Regions from separate parts of the Homo sapiens genome. Here region 1 is linked to region 2. Evidence: fine-mapped QTL for protein levels in blood plasma. A gene starts in region 2. The other region holds a variant in brackets. All regions are shown on one strand. Distances are from middle to middle.

Region 1 (8,393 bases), 10 kb after region 2:
ATACTCTTTACAATAAACGTTTGGTGCAGAATAAACATTTAATACATGACAACTCTTATAATTTGGAAACCCTTGCCAAGATATTTGATTTTAACAGGGACCAAAGAAATAAATCTCTAATGAAGCAATTTTTGATATCTGGATATGTCTGTATAGGAATTTGTCCTTTTACTAGAAAAGGCATGAGTTACATCAGTACTGGAGTAGAAGAAAAGATTGTGTCTAAGAGAGCAGGCTGTGAAATGAAACAGAGCCTGGATGCTTGGTCAGTCTCACAGGGCCAATTACACACAGGAGACACTGTACATAAGGCCCACGATAGTTTTAATTTTAATTTCTTTTAAAATCAGAAGAGAAATGAATATAGCAATAACAATAACAATGAATATATAATGAATCCAGCCCGGATCACATTCATTTTATACCAACACAGTCATGAAATATGATTTTTAATATTTCTTATGGAAGAAGGACCAACAAGGTCAAAAGTACACAGGAACCACAAAAGTCACCATGTAGCCTTGCAGTAGCATCATTAGAACTGTCAGGATCCTATAGCTTGGCTGTTTTGTTGGCTTTGCTTCTTTCATTTGTGCTTTTCATGACTGAATTAATAAAAATTCCATTTAAAAATTTCACCCTGACACTTTATGTTAAGAGGCAGAAGGGGAAATAACTTTGGGTTTTGTACTTTTAAGGAGAACACCTTTGTTGACAGCTGATGTGAGACCTCAGTTCTTGTCTACTTAGTTTAAAAGAATTTATATGAGAGATACACAGCAAAGGAAATACAGCATAGGGTAATTGATTGCAAAAGAATAAGAATATTTTGACAGTTAAGTGCAGAAAAGACAGTACATTCTGAGAGAAGGAAAATTCAGGGTGGGCTGCCCATAAGGATGAGACAGCAAAGACTGGCACTGGGGAGACCCCCTTTATGGGAGTCTTACATGATTATTCATAAGAGGGTGGGAAGAGGTGTTACTAGTAACCATGTTCTTGGTGGTCCTCTGGGTGGACGTGCACAGTAGCTATACATGCTTCTTCATAAATCTCGTGTCTCATTAGCATCTTAAATCTCCACCCATGGGTGTGTTTTTTACTATTATAATGAGCAAAGGGTCAGTTTGAGAACAAGTAAAATCAAAATCCGCATGCTCTCTACAGCGGAAAGTCCTCACTGAAGATAGCTTTGCTTAAATGAGCTCAATTACAATGTGAATGCTGAGGCTTATTGTATTGACTGTAGGGTCACCAGAGTTACTGCCTCCTGAGAACACTGTTACTTCCTTGACTACCTAACCTGCCTCACCTTTAAGGATTTAGTCTTAGTTTTTGTATTTCTATCAGCCTTGAATAAGTTCTTATCATTTCTACTATTTAGTTTTCTCATCTATAAAATATGCCCTTCAAGGTCTCGACCCTGTGGGTTTTGGTGTGTACTCTGCCTCTTACTAGGTGGCTTGAGTAAGTCATTTACCCCCACTGTGCCTCACATTCCTGATCCGTAAGATAGGGATATAAAGAATGTTTCTTCAAAAAGTTGTTTTAAGAGTTAAACAAGGCTGGGTGTGGTGGCTCATGCCTGCAATCCAGCACTTTGGGAGGCAGAGGCGGGCAGATCACTTGAGGTCAGGAGTTCAAGATCAGCCTGGCCAACATGGTGAAAACCCCACCTCTACTAAAAACACAAAAATTAGCTAGGTAAGATGGCACACACCTGGACTCCCAGCTACTCAGGAGGCTGAAGAAAGACAATCACTCTGAGGCAAGACAATCACTTGAACCCAGGACGTGGAGGTTGTAGTGAGCTGAGATCGTGCCACTGCAATCCCGCCTGGGCAACAGAGTGAGACTCTGTCTCAAAAACAAAAGTGTTAATCAAGATTATAATTTATGCTTTTAAACTGCTAGTCCCAAACTAAATTCTCTCACTGCTCTGTGTTATTCCCAGAGTCTGTCTCTCAAGTTTAATAGGTAAGAATAAGATGACTTACTCCCCACATCTGTTTACTGGTAATGCTCAGCTGGCCACTTCTGGAAGTTTCTTCAGCAGACATTCTTAACTGTTTTTCACCTACAACCACATAATCAGTGATGATTTTTTATAAGTCATACTCTCTGGGAGTGAACTAAGATTGTTGTGATACATAAATTTCTAATATAATGCTTCCATGTGAGCACTTACATAATAGGGTAACATGTGAGGGACCTCTATATGAGGTTCCAAAGGCTTTTCCAGGAGGTTGTTGTGTTGGACTGAGTGGGTTTCTCAGATCTCTCCAGGACCCAAAGGGGGTGAGTAATTGGTGACAAGGACAGGGAATCAGGCTTATTTTATGGTTCTCTGTGTTTATAGGGTCAGCAGCCTCTGGACCCGTGAAAGAGCTGGTCGGTTCCGTTGGTGGGGCCGTGACTTTCCCCCTGAAGTCCAAAGTAAAGCAAGTTGACTCTATTGTCTGGACCTTCAACACAACCCCTCTTGTCACCATACAGCCAGAAGGGGGCACTATCATAGTGACCCAAAATCGTAATAGGGAGAGAGTAGACTTCCCAGATGGAGGCTACTCCCTGAAGCTCAGCAAACTGAAGAAGAATGACTCAGGGATCTACTATGTGGGGATATACAGCTCATCACTCCAGCAGCCCTCCACCCAGGAGTACGTGCTGCATGTCTACGGTGAGCAAAATCAGTTCCAATGGTGGATGGCTGCCTTGGTGAGGTGGTGAGCTCCTTGACATGAGAGATGTTTAAGCAGAGGCTGAATAAACACTTGGCAAGAATGTGGGAGAGGGGACTTCTGCATGAATGAAATAGATGTAGCTGACCCCTGAGGTCCCTGCCTACTCAGAGATGTTGTAAGAAGCAGCGTGGTGCAGTGGATGGCTGATATGTGCAGTGGCCATCGCATAGATCAAGGTCAAATGCTGGCTTCTTTATTTAGTCACATGACCTTAGCCGAGTTATTTAATTTCTTCAAGTCTTAGTTTCCATATCTGTAGTGGGGAGGAAAGAAATGCCTACCTTAGGAAGATTTTTGGGCAAAATATCGATCACATCTCTTTCTCTACAGATTACAACCAATTGATAAATAGATGCAAGAAGGAGGGGATTAAAATATCAGCATATTTCTGGTAAATCTAGACAGGAGAAATGCTTCCTTTCAATTCTAGACCTTGGCACTCATCCAGGGAAGTTAAAATTATGAAACAATGACTCAAACTTCTTCAAGAAGAATAGCTGCTTCACTCACTGAGCCACAGTATCAGGAACCTTAGGGGATGGGCCTCCAGACTTGCTTGTAGGAGGTAGGCACTGCACCTGATCCAGGTGTGTCTTCCATATAGACATGGTTGAAGGGAACAGAAGATATGTATTCTGCAGGCTAACTAGTCAGGGGAGGAAGAAAAAGGGCAAAACACATTTTAACTGCAACCTTTAACGTCTCAAACCCATGAGTAGAGAAAGGTAAATGATGAATGTCAGACTCTTACCATCTCACCAATGAACCAACTACTCATTCTCTGAGGCAGGGGAGTGAGCACAGAGTAGAGAAGGGGGCCAGAAGGGCTACTCCAACACAATTTTCTCCTAGAGAGTAAAGTGAACTCTCATAGAGAGTAAAGGGAAGCCTGAGGACAGAGACTAGGGAACCTCTAGAACAGATAATATTAGCGGACATCTAACATGCGTTATCACAGTGCTTGCCATGTGGCTATGCTTAGTAAATGACAGTTATATTCTTATTGCATTATTATTTCTATTATTTCTATTGTTGTTATTGTTATTATTATTATATAGCTATGGTAAAGCAGACCTAGGTAGTTCTCTTTTCCAGATACGAATGAGGATTCTGCTCTGAATTACTGCTTTCTCTCCAGTCTGGAGCTCCCAGGGAGATTCAGGTCCAAGGTATCCAAGGATAATTCAGAGAATGGAGAGCTATAGGCAGAGTTTCCACCTCTGGTTTTCCTTCCTCTCACAGAGCACCTGTCAAAGCCTAAAGTCACCATGGGTCTGCAGAGCAATAAGAATGGCACCTGTGTGACCAATCTGACATGCTGCATGGAACATGGGGAAGAGGATGTGATTTATACCTGGAAGGCCCTGGGGCAAGCAGCCAATGAGTCCCATAATGGGTCCATCCTCCCCATCTCCTGGAGATGGGGAGAAAGTGATATGACCTTCATCTGCGTTGCCAGGAACCCTGTCAGCAGAAACTTCTCAAGCCCCATCCTTGCCAGGAAGCTCTGTGAAGGTGACTGCCTCTCCCCTCTCCACAGGAGACTCTGCCCAGGTCCTACACCTTCTTCAGCTCCTAGCCCCCATGGGAACAGACACTGTATGGAAACTGGAGGCCGCTGGGTGGTCACCAGGCTGGGAGGAAGGTGGCAGGTGCTCCAAGACCTGGGTCGTTTTCCTGAGCTGACTTTTCTCCCTTCCCTGTG[C/T]CTCCACCCATTCTCTGAAGGTGCTGCTGATGACCCAGATTCCTCCATGGTCCTCCTGTGTCTCCTGTTGGTGCCCCTCCTGCTCAGTCTCTTTGTACTGGGGCTATTTCTTTGGTTTCTGAAGAGAGAGAGACAAGAAGGTAGAGCGTGTACTATTTTTGTCCTCACCCACATTCATGTTTTTCTCCTTCACTGATTCAACAAGCACATATAGAGCTGTGTGCCAGACTTGGCATGAGGTGTTGAAGATGCAGAGATGAAGAAGCCACAGTCTCTGCCCTCAAGAAGCATACAGTCAGCCTGTGCTCCTTAGTTCTGGAGTAGAGAAAGTGCTGGAGGTCTTTCCCAAGGACACGGTTCTCCCAGTTCCCTTTCCAGGGCTCACTTCTCTCCTTCTCCCAGAGGGACATCCTGATGTGGCTCTTCTGTTGATACAGGCCCCACACTGCTGACTCTGCTCCCCTGACCTGGGAGGTGATGGCCTCCAACTCTGAGGTCCCCACAGACCAGCATCCTCTAGTCAATCCTTCCTATCCCTGTCAGAGCCCACAAACCACCCACACCCTTTCCACAGGATCAACCCAAGACCTCGCTTTACTGCCCACTAGACACATGGCTCCTGGGGAAGCCTTTCCCTGTCTCTCTCCAGTTGCACCCCATCCTGTGTTCCTAAACCCTGCTGATTGGTCTTCTGGGCTCCCACTGTCCATGTGGGTGATGGGGAGGGACCTAACATCAGTTGGGTATGACTTGCAGACTTTGAAATCTCCCTTCCCTCCTGGAAGCCCCTCTGAAAGTGTCTTTGACTTTCTCTACTTCCCACTTTGACCACCTTGATGGAGAGATCAGGAAGTGAAATGTTGGGGGTGGCCAATTCATCCTGATTTGTTTAGATTTTCCCAGTTTTAACACTGAAAGTCCTCTATCCTGAAAACCCTTCCATTACAAGGAAACTCGGCTGGTTGGTCACCCTAAGTGGGTCATCCAGGAGAAATGGTGGGCCAGTGGAAGTGGTGAGTGGTTGGAGAGGTGGCTTTGATTCTCTCCCAACTTGCTTTTAGAGTACATTGAAGAGAAGAAGAGAGTGGACATTTGTCGGGAAACTCCTAACATATGCCCCCATTCTGGAGAGAACACAGAGTACGACACAATCCCTCACACTAATGTGAGTCCCTTCTCATCTTTCCTGAGAACTGATCCTGTCTCTGAGGCTCTCCTTGTGAGGTTTTTCCATGGGTTTGGACAACATGGGAATGAAGAGGGGAGTGAGGATATATAGACTTAAAACTCAATGCACCTGTGCCTCCTCCAAGTCTTCATGGATTCTCTTCTGTGCAGAAGAAGCTGGTGGTCTCTGGAGCACCTGGTTCTGACTCACAATGCTCATGCTGTGGTCTGTGAAATCACCTGCTCCCCTCCACAGTTCATAACGGCCACACAAAAGGCCAGATTCCTTTTGCATAAGGCAGTGGGTAGAAGAGTGTGACTTTGACAGGATGTTTGAATCATGGTATCAGAAGACTTCTCTAGAGATCTCTCTCTCTCTCTCTCTCTCTCTCTCTCTCTCTCTCTCTCTCTCTATATATATATATATATATATATATATATATATATATATACACACACATATATATATAATATTTTTGAAATTCATTTTAACACAGTACAGTTTAAAAATAATGTAATGGCTTCCTGAAAAAAGTTATCAAAATTTATTATAATAGCAGTCACCAACAAGAGAACTTCCTACCTCCCTTCCCTGTTCCAGAACCCTCCTTTTCCTCTCACATCTCCTCCCATCTCTGCTTTCCCCTCTCTGGATTCTGAATGTCTCTCTGGCCTTGTCTATGTGATTCAGGAGGTGGGTGATGATTTCTTTTGTTTGTTGTTTGTTTTTAAAAGAGAACAATCCTAAAGGAAGATCCAGCAAATACGGTTTACTCCACTGTGGAAATACCGAAAAAGGTAAGAAGCTTTAGAGCTTAACTTCATCTTAATGGTTCCATTTCTTTTCCTGCTTCATGTTTAGGTCAAAATTTCTTGGACCCAGGTATCTCATACTCTCTAGAATTAAAAAGTACCCTAGTAGTTCCCCATTCCCTTTGCTTAGGGTTATACAAGAACATGGGGGATGGAAGAGAATTGTGTTTTAGGAATCGAATTGGGTAATCTGGAACAAATAGAGTAGGACAGAGGTTCTAGATCGGAATAATAAAGAAAATCAAAAGCCTTCTGACTGAAGTTGCAGACAAGGAAAAAGACCATGGCTTAGATTGTGCATGGAATGAAGAGAGGAATAGCTGAGAGGAGAGTCCAGCTTTCTCCTGAGACACCAGGAAACTGCAGGAGGGAGAGATCTCTACTTTTCTCCCATGGTCCAGCTATGTTACATCTGCTTTGCACCCTCCCCTCAGTTAAACTACTAATGCAGTAGCTTTAAGGCTTATTCCTTCACAGAGTACGGTTGGCAGCAGTAATGGTATCTTTCTGTCTCCTTTTTCTTCCTCTCCCAAACAGATCCAAAAAGATAAGAATCATTAAAGCAGTTTGCTTAGTAATAGAAAAGGTTGGTTTAGTGAATTATTACAACTGAACAAGGAAAGTTCAGTTCATTAAGCATTCAGCAAGATAAATATGCGTTAAACTTACAGAATAGTTTCTCTAAGCTAGGGGTGATTAAAATCAAACAGTGGGAGCCAGCATGCCAGCCGATTTGGGTTGGGTAACCTTGGAAATAAAGTTTCCTGGATGTCAGGGTCTCCATGGACGATCCAGAGCCCTGCTCACCTCCCTCACTCTACTTTCTTTTTGTCTGTCTTCAGATGGAAAATCCCCACTCACTGCTCACGATGCCAGACACACCAAGGCTATTTGCCTATGAGAATGTTATCTAGACAGCAGTGCACTCCCCTAAGTCTCTGCTCAAAAAAAAAACAATTCTCGGCCCAAAGAAAACAATCAGAAGAATTCACTGATTTGACTAGAAACATCAAGGAAGAATGAAGAACGTTGACTTTTTTCCAGGATAAATTATCTCTGATGCTTCTTTAGATTTAAGAGTTCATAATTCCATCCACTGCTGAGAAATCTCCTCAAACCCAGAAGGTTTAATCACTTCATCCCAAAAATGGGATTGTGAATGTCAGCAAACCATAAAAAAAGTGCTTAGAAGTATTCCTATAAAAATGTAAATGCAAGGTCACACATATTAATGACAGCCTGTTGTATTAATGATGGCTCCAGGTCAGTGTCTGGAGTTTCATTCCATCCCAGGGCTTGGATGTCAGGATTATACCAAGAGTCTTGCTACCAGGAGGGCAAGAAGACCAAAACAGACAGACAAGTCCAGCAGAAGCAGATGCACCTGACAAAAATGGATGTATTAATTGGCTCTATAAACTATGTGCCCAGCACTATGCTGAGCTTACACTAATTGGTCAGACATGCTGTCTGCCCTCATGAAATTGGCTCCAAATGAATGAACTACTTTCATGAGCAGTTGTAGCAGGCCTGACCACAGATTCCCAGAGGGCCAGGTGTGGATCCACAGGACTTGAAGGTCAAAGTTCACAAAGATGAAGAATCAGGGTAGCTGACCATGTTTGGCAGATACTATAATGGAGACACAGAAGTGTGCATGGCCCAAGGACAAGGACCTCCAGCCAGGCTTCATTTATGCACTTGTGCTGCAAAAGAAAAGTCTAGGTTTTAAGGCTGTGCCAGAACCCATCCCAATAAAGAGACCGAGTCTGAAGTCACATTGTAAATCTAGTGTAGGAGACTTGGAGTCAGGCAGTGAGACTGGTGGGGCACGGGGGGCAGTGGGTACTTGTAAACCTTTAAAGATGGTTAATTCATTCAATAGATATTTATTAAGAACCTATGCGGCCCGGCATGGTGGCTCACACCTGTAATCCCAGCACTTTGGGAGGCCAAGGTGGGTG
Region 2 (8,393 bases):
CCCCCCGCCAACAGCAAAGGCCAAGTGGAAAACCTATATTTAAACCCCCCACCCCACCCCTTGGCAGTAAGGAATCATCCCTCCCCACTCCCCACTCCCCACTGGGGTGGCATCAGAAGAGGCTAAGTAGGAAGACTGAACATGCACTCCCTCCCTGAAGCAATGAGGCACTCCTCCCAATTCTTGCTTTGGGTGGTGTCAGAAAAGGCCAAATGGAGGGTCTGGATTTTTACCACTGCTCAGCAGTAATGTGGTCCCCTACCTTATCATCACTGTGTCAAAAATCACTCATCATAACAAGAACCAGGACAATCTTGACTTGAATGAACAAAAGGCAATCAACAGACACCAAAACCAAGACAACACAGACGTTAGAATTATCTTACAAGGATTTTAAAGAAACCATAGTAAAAATGCTTCAACTAGCAGCTATGAACACATTTAAAACAAATAAACAAAAAAACTAGAAAGTCTTTAAAAAAAGAGTAGAAGATATAAAGAAGAACCAAAGGGAAATTTTAGAATTGAATAATACAATGACTGAAAGGTAAAACTAATTGAATGAGTTTAATGAGCTTAATAGCAAAATGGAGGCCAGGGCCAGTGGCTCATACTGGCAATCCCAGCACTTGGGGAGGCCAAGGTGGGCGGATCACCTGAGGTCAAGAGTACAAGACCAGCCTGGCCAACATGGCAAAACTCTGTCGCTACCAAAATATAAAAATTAGCCAGGTGTGGTGGCGGGTGCCAGTAATCCCAGCTACTTAGGAGGCTGAGGCAGGAGAATCGCTTGAGCCCAGGAGACAGAGGTTGCAGTGAGCTGAGATCGTGCACTCCAGCCTGGGCAACAGAGTGAGACTCTGTCTCAGAAAAAATAAAAAAATAAAAAATTGCAAAATGGAGATGAAAAAGGAAAGAATCAGTGTACTTGAAGATAAACAATAGAAAATACCCAATCTGAAAACAGAGTGAAAATAGGCCAAAAAAAAAAAAAAAAAAAAAAAAAAATGGAGCCTCAGAGCCCTGTGGGAGAAAAACAAAAGATTTATAACATTCATGTCATCAGAATTTTAGGAGAGAAGCGAGAATGTGAGGCTGAAAAAAAAGTATTCAAAAAATAATGAAATTTCCCCAAACTTAGCAAAAGGTAAAAACCTACAGATTCAAGAGACTCAATGAATCACAAATAAGAGAAACCCAAAGAAATTCACACCAAGACACATTATAATCACACTTCTGAAAACTAAAGACAAACAAAAAACTTTTAAAACAGCTAGAGAAAAATGACACATTACCTACAGGGAAAACAACTTAAATGACGGCTGATTTCTCACTGGAAACCATGGAGGGGAGGAGTGTCATGACACTTTTCAAGTGTTGAAAGAAAAAAAACTGTCAACCTAGAATTTTATACCCAGGAATGAGGGTTAAATCAAGACATTCTCAGGTGAAGGAAAACTAAGATAATTTGTTATCAGCAGGCTTATCATAAAAGAATTCCTAAAGAATATCTTGAAACAGAAAGAAATGATTAAAGAAGAAAACTTGAAGGCTGGGTGTGGTGGCTCATACCTGTAATCCCAGCACTTTGGGAGGCCAAAGTTGGTGGATCACCTGAGGTCAGGAGTTTGAGACTAGCCTGGCCAACATGGCGAAACCTGATCTCTACTAAAAGTACAAAAAGTAGGTGGGCATGGTGGCATGAGCCTGTAGTCCCAGCTACTCAGGAGGCTGAGGCAGGAGAATCGCTTGAACCCAGGAGGCGGAGATTGCAGTGAGCCAAGATCATGCCACTACACTCCAGCCTGTATGACAGAGCAAGACTTCGTCCAAAAAAAAATAAAAAGAAGGAAACTTGAAACATTAGAAATAAAGAAATAACAATGAAAAGAGTTAAAATATGGGTAAATGTAATGGATTGTCCTTCTCCTCTTGAGTGTTCTGAATTATGTTCAACAATTGAAGCAAAACTTATAATCTTACCGATATGGTTCTCAATGAATATAGACAATATATTTAAGACAAGTATAAAGATAGACTAATAAAGAAACCTAATATAGGTAAGTTTTCTATACCTAGTTCAACTGGTAAAATGTCAACACTGATAGGTAGATCAAAAGTTATGTATGTAAAATGCAATATGTACAGCAACCAGTAAAAAAACTCTTCAAAAAGATACATTATAGATAAATCAAAATGGAATTATAAAAAATATTCCAGTAACACACAGGATGGCCAGGAAAGTGAAACAGAGGAACAAAATAAACAAACAAAAGCCCAGAAGAACAAAGAGAAAATAATAACATGGCAAACTTAAGCTCTGATATATAAATAATTACATTATGTAAGTCAGTTAAATAGAATAGATAGCTCCAGAATATACCCACACAAGTATAAGTGCTGATTTTTGATAAAGATACAAAAGTAATTCAATGTAGGAAAGATCATCTTTTCCATCACATGGTAGTAGAACAATTGAACACCCACAGGCAGAAGAAAAAAAAACACGCACATTGTAATCATACTTCTGAAAACCAAAGGCAAACAAAAAACTTTTAAAACAGCTAGAGAAAAATGACACATTACCTATAGGGAAAACAATTTAAATGATGGCTGATTTCTCACTGGAAACCATGGAGGGGAGGAGTGTCATGACACTTTTCAAGTGTCGAAAGCAAAAAAAAACTGTCAACCATATTACCTGATATGGTTCTCAATGAATATAGACAATATATTTAGGTGAATCTCAACCTAAACTTCACACCTTACATTAAAACAGGATCATACATTTAAATGTAAAACATAAAACTATAAAACTTTCAGGAGAAAACCTTTGGACCCTAGTGTGGGTAGAAAAAAAACTGATAAGTTGAATTTCATCAAAATTAAAATTTTTGCTCTGCCAAAGACCCCGTTAAGAAGATGAAAAGACAGGCTACAGACCAAGAGAAAATATTTGTAAACCACATATCTGACAAATGACTCTTATACTTGGAACATATAAGGAATTGTCAAAGCTCAACAGTAAAAAAAATAAAGAATCTGATTATAAAATGGACAAAAGACATAAATAGACATTTCACCAAGGAGGATATGGATATATAGATGGCAAATAAGCACATGAAAAGATGTTCAACATTATTAGGCTTTAGGGAAATGCAAATTAAAGCCACAATGAGGTATCACTACAGCACCTATTAAAACAGCTAAAATATAAAATGGGAATATACCAAATGCTGATGAAGATGGGGAGCAAATAGATCTCTCATAGATTGCTGGTGGCAAGGTAAAATGCTCTATTCACTCTGAAAATAATTTAGCAATTACTCAATCTCACATGTCTGCGGCGTGACCCCTCCTGCTTCTTTAAATATCAGCTGGGGAAGAGGTCTGAGTAATACCTAAGAGGGAAGTGGCTTCATTTCAGTGGCTGACTTCCAGAGAGCAATATGGCTGGTTCCCCAACATGCCTCACCCTCATCTATATCCTTTGGCAGCTCACAGGTGAGTCCGGCCGGATTCTCTTCCACTCTCCTGTCTACCCCATCCTGAATAGTTCCAGGTTTCTTGTTCCACTCTGGGCCTCTGGCTCAACTCGGGAGGCTCTGTGTTCTCATCTAACATTTGCTTTTTATCAATCTCTGATCTCTGATTCTCAGGTCAGGAAGAGACTAGAGAGAGGGGGAAAAATGGCTCTGGGAACTGACTCCCCTGTTGACTGTCCCAGGGATGAAGGAGCTGAAAGAAGTGGTGCTGGGTATCAGAGACCATTTTTCTAATCCAGGTTCTGCCATGAGTTAGATAAGGAATGTTAAAGTTTTCCTGGGCCTCAGAAACTTTATCTTCTAGCCTTCTCTCCTTTTGAGGGCAACTTTAAGAACAAGATGATACTATACAGGTATGTATTTATTTACTTATAAATGTATTTATAAAATTGGTTATGCATAACAGTAATATAAATGGAAAGAATCACTTGAATTTTCTTTCCTTACTCAAGCAATGTAATCAGTCTCTACTTAGAGAACCAACTCATACCATAGGCACTTTATGTTTAATCCCATGGAGGACAGAGGACAGTTCTCCACCTGTCACTGGTATTCTAGTCTTTGAAGATTTTTCTATCCTAAGGGCTCTCAGAAAGGATCAGGAGCCCTATAAGTGAGAAATATCTCTTCTGTCATCAATCTCATGGAGTACTACCATGAGGTCCCCCTATAAGGACTTCACATAACTGCTTCATTATGTGTATCTGAGCCTGCCTGGAGTGATCTGCCCAAGACCACGCAGGCAGCTGGTGCCCCCAATATTTTCCCCTGCATCGCTAAGTGGTCAGCATCAGCAGACTCTTACCCACTTTGAATTCATCAGAAGTTTGTATTTTTGAGAGGTACCTGGGTCTAACCAGGTGGTTCTGGAATAGGCCCTCACTTTAAAAAAAAAAAACAAAAAAAAAACTCCCTGAACGGAAATGATGAGCAGAAATAGAACTTGAGGGAGATAAGGTGGAGGGGTTGGGGAAAATTATAGAGACTTTGAAAGCTACAGGTGTCCATCTGAAATCAGTCAGCGAAAGAGCACAAGTATGAAAAACTGCCATGCAGGTCCCCCTCTGCCCTCCTCCAGAGGCAGCCTGTGTAGTGTACCTCCTGAGGCTGAAAGGAGACAGAGATTGTCCTGGAACTTCCAGTGGGCAGGGCAGTGGAACAAATCCTGGCACTGGACAAGCGCATCCTTGGTTTGACTTAGTAGCTGTATTATTGTAGGCAAATTACTCTTCCCTTCTGAGCCTTGCTCTTCTCAGGTGTGTAACAGAGAATGAAATCTAAGTTGCAGAATTATTGTGACATTTTAAATGACATATCAAATGCAAAATAATTATTAAAATAATCACCATTTATTAAGTTACTACATCGCAGGTGTTTTTCATACCACCTCCTCATGAGTCTGTAAGACAGATATCATTATCCCTGTTTTACAGTTGAGGAAACTTAGGCTCAGCAGAGAGATCACGCTTCTTGGGCAAGATAACACAGCATTTATAAGGTAGCCAGAGATTGAGTTTAGAAAGCTAGAAAGCTAGTGCTCTTTTAATCATAACAAGCCGTCTATCACTGGACCTGGCACCAAAGAGATGCTCACTACATGTGCATTTGAGCTGAATCTTCCTCAGGGAGTACCAGTTGGGGTTTCTTCCCTCTCCAGGTACATAAATCTGAGGTAGAAACTGGAAAGGCCCGAGAAGAACGGGTAGCTCTGTTTCTGGGATATGGGTGTACCAACAGGGGGCCACCCTGGCTAAACTCAGAGGGTCCATGAAGCAGTTCTCATGGCCTCAGTATTCTCATCTGAAAAATGGGCACAGTAATCTGCCAATGATTTGATGATACAGTAGTGTCAAGGAGACAATCAATAAAAAGAAAACAAAAAAGTGGGTGAGGGGAATTGGGAGAGTGTTGAAAAGAACCAGAAGAAACAAGGAAGAGGGGGCAGGAGATGAGTGAGGAGCAGAGTGGTGAGCAACCTAAATGTGAATGTGGTCGGTTAGGGCTAGAGTGATGGGAAAGGTGTGTGGTGAAGCGGGAAACTTTCAAGCCTCTGTCTGTGGCTGCCTTGTGTGGCATTGAATTACACTGCTCTTTCGTGAGTACATTCGTTAAGGGGGACTTGAGTAAAGTGCAATAGATTTCAAACCACTTTGGGTTTTTTTTGCCTTTTTTTTTAAATCCATGGTTTCCTTTTATGGAATGAAATTTTACACAGAAAAAAACAAATAAATGACTCCAATGTATAGAGTTGAAGCCTAACGGAAGCAAGTCCCATAGCCTCCTATCCTACGCTCACCCCTTAAACCTCCTCCTGAGCTCCCAAGAAATACACTGAGGCACTGCCACAGCCTCCAAAGGTGGCGCCATGGGGCACAGTCTGTGAAATCCTGCCTTAGGAGCCTTGGCTCCTAATCCTGGCCTTCCACTGGTTTGGGAAACATCACCATAACCTTCTGAATATCAGCCTTCTTATCTGTGAAATGGGATTGGACTAAGTAATCCCTAAGACTCCTCCAAGCTCTGAGATGCTCTGGTTCATGGTTTTCATGAGGAGAGTGCCACAACACACTGCTACATTTGGACAGAGGCACCAAGTGTTCAGAGAAGTGCTTGGGGACGGGGTTGGCAAGCAGGAGGCAGGCTTTTCCACTCTCCCCTCCCCCAAAGTCTTCCTGCTTTATCACCATCCCTTGGTTCTGGCTGCACTGATAATGTATCTTCCTCATAATCGGGCTCCTTCCCTCCACTCAACTCTTGAGACTCTAGGGGACAGGACAGGGGAGGAGGTGACAACCAAGAGGAAAGGAAGGTGACAAAGGGCAGGACCTGTTATCCCTTCCTGTTACAGAGGAAATCTCACAGCTGACTCCTCCTGATGCAAAGACATCTGAGTCTTGGCTGGGGCAAAAGACAAAGGGTCTCCTGCCCCAGCTCCCTCCACCTTCAAAGGCAGGCGGGGGATGTAGTGGGGAATGCTCATGGCCGTCTTAACTTTCTGGCTTACTTTGCTGAGAAGCCATCCAAAGGTGTTTTGGGATATCTCTGTTTCTCATTTTTAGCTATCTGTGCAGAAATAAAACCAAAAGATGGGAAGCCTCCTCAAGGCCTGACTCTCATGCTCTCATTTCCTGACCTTGTCACCCGCATCCCACCTTCTCGTTAGGCTACTCTGTACTTCTCAAAATGCTTTCAAATCTGTATTCACACTTCATCTTCCCCAAATGCCTGGAAACTAAATGTTGTTATTTATTTCTCGTATGAGGGTTCAGAAACCAAAACTCGAAGTGGTAAGTGGTGAAGCAATATTGGAAACAACACAGACCACTGAGGCAGAGGAACTAACTCCTCTTCCCTCTTCCAACATTTCTTCATTGGGGCTTTAGGAAAGTCACCCCACTTCTCAAAACTCCAGTATCCCAATTTATAAAGCAGGGCTTAGGCTGTATCTCACGGGGCTGTTCTAAGGATCAGGAGAGAGGATGCCCACTGATCTGGCTTACAAACCACAGAGTGACACCAGGTGTTTGCTGCTGGAGTTATGACTACGGAGGCGGCAGAATGGACCCAGAATGGACCCTGACTCCCAGTTAGGCCAGAGCCCTTTCTCCCTCTGCCACATGCTGGAGGAGGAGAAGCGACCTCTACCCCTCTCTGGGCAGGACTTGGTGACCCCATCATTGGGTGATCTGGCCTCTAATCCTGTGGACCAATCATTGGCTAATCCACAGCAAAATGATATATGCAGCGACCACCAAGGGAGGATATTTCTTTCTGGAGAATTTAAAGTGTCAATGAAGTGAAATTAGTGGTAAATTTTCAGGGGATGTGTGAGAGGAAGAGTTGGAGGCTTCCTCAGGGAAGAGCTTTGAATTAGATACAGGGTTTGAATAAGATTTACATGAACAGAGAGGAGGATAAAGCACAAACAAGAGTGTGAGGTAGAAAGTGAGCTGAGGATCAGGGGAGGGAGGAGGCCGGGATGTTTGTGTGGTGGCCACATGTGAGTGGCAGTCCCAGCTGCATATCTTTCCACAGCAATACATTGTCATCCTGGCCTTACGCAGTCAACCCATGTCATGTGACACCCCTGAACTAATTACTGTACATGAGAAGGGCTACCACCTGAACTGGGTAGCCCAAACCATTTGGCTTGTACGGAATGAGGAAGGGGTAAAATGGATGTAAAAGAGGCAGGTTACAACCTTCACTGCACTGACTCAGGTAGAAGGTTGGCACCTGAGGAGAGTGGATGAATATCATGGGACCCAATCCTCTCGAGTCTTGTGGGTAGAGGTTGGTAGCCACTCTGTCTCCAGGGTCTCACTCTGTCATCCAGGGTGGAGTGCAGTGGCACGATCACGGCTCACTGCAGCCTCCACCTTCTGGGTTCAAGGAATCCTCCCACCTCAGCCTCTCGAGTATCTGGGACCACAGGTGAATGCCACCACGCCCAACTAATTTTTTCATTTTTTGTAAAGACAAGGTCTGGCTATGTTGCCCAGCCTGGTCTCAAACTCCTGACCTCAAGTGATCCTCCTGCTTCAGCCTCCCAAAGTGCTGGGATTACAGGCATAAGCCACCAATTCCAGCATCTTCCCTTTCCATAACACATGTAGTTATTTATTTAATGACTATCTACCAACTCCGTAAGTGCCAGAATTATGACTGTCTTGCTCCCCAGTTATACCCTCAGCTCCTAAACAATGAGAACTAAATAAATTCTTGTTAAAAGAAGGAATGACTGAATCTGACAAGTGTGACCTGCTTAGATATGGTAAAACTCTATAGGGTCACACACTGCAGGTGCAAAACCATCACAGAAAGAAGAGCTTCAGTTCAGCCTTGGAC

What was found. PIP is the chance, under the fine-mapping model, that this variant and not a neighbour inherited with it causes the effect. Sun 2018 read protein levels with aptamers (SomaScan).
Region 1: its variant is fine-mapped to the plasma level of the SLAMF7 protein (Sun 2018, PIP 0.95).

What each region holds. Positions count from the first base shown.
Region 1 is chr1:160,745,835-160,754,227 of GRCh38, forward strand. It overlaps SLAMF7 (SLAM family member 7), which reads left to right. Exons shown (of 7, transcript NM_021181.5): 2 at 2,360-2,680; 3 at 3,987-4,259; 4 at 4,470-4,589; 5 at 5,511-5,614; 6 at 6,352-6,414; 7 at 7,272-8,393. The coding sequence ends at 7,343. Among named protein-coding and RNA genes, the nearest start is that of SLAMF7, 11 kb to the left of the region's middle. RefSeq lists a silencer at 5,929-5,988. The variant C/T (reference allele first, on the strand shown) is at 4,450.
Region 2 is chr1:160,735,853-160,744,245 of GRCh38, forward strand. SLAMF7 (SLAM family member 7) reads left to right here and starts at 3,395. Exons shown (of 7, transcript NM_021181.5): 1 at 3,395-3,504. The coding sequence starts at 3,450. It overlaps LOC124904440 (a long non-coding RNA gene), which reads right to left and starts at 3,307. Exons shown (of 2, transcript XR_007066687.1): 1 at 3,231-3,307. RefSeq lists an enhancer at 6,477-6,556.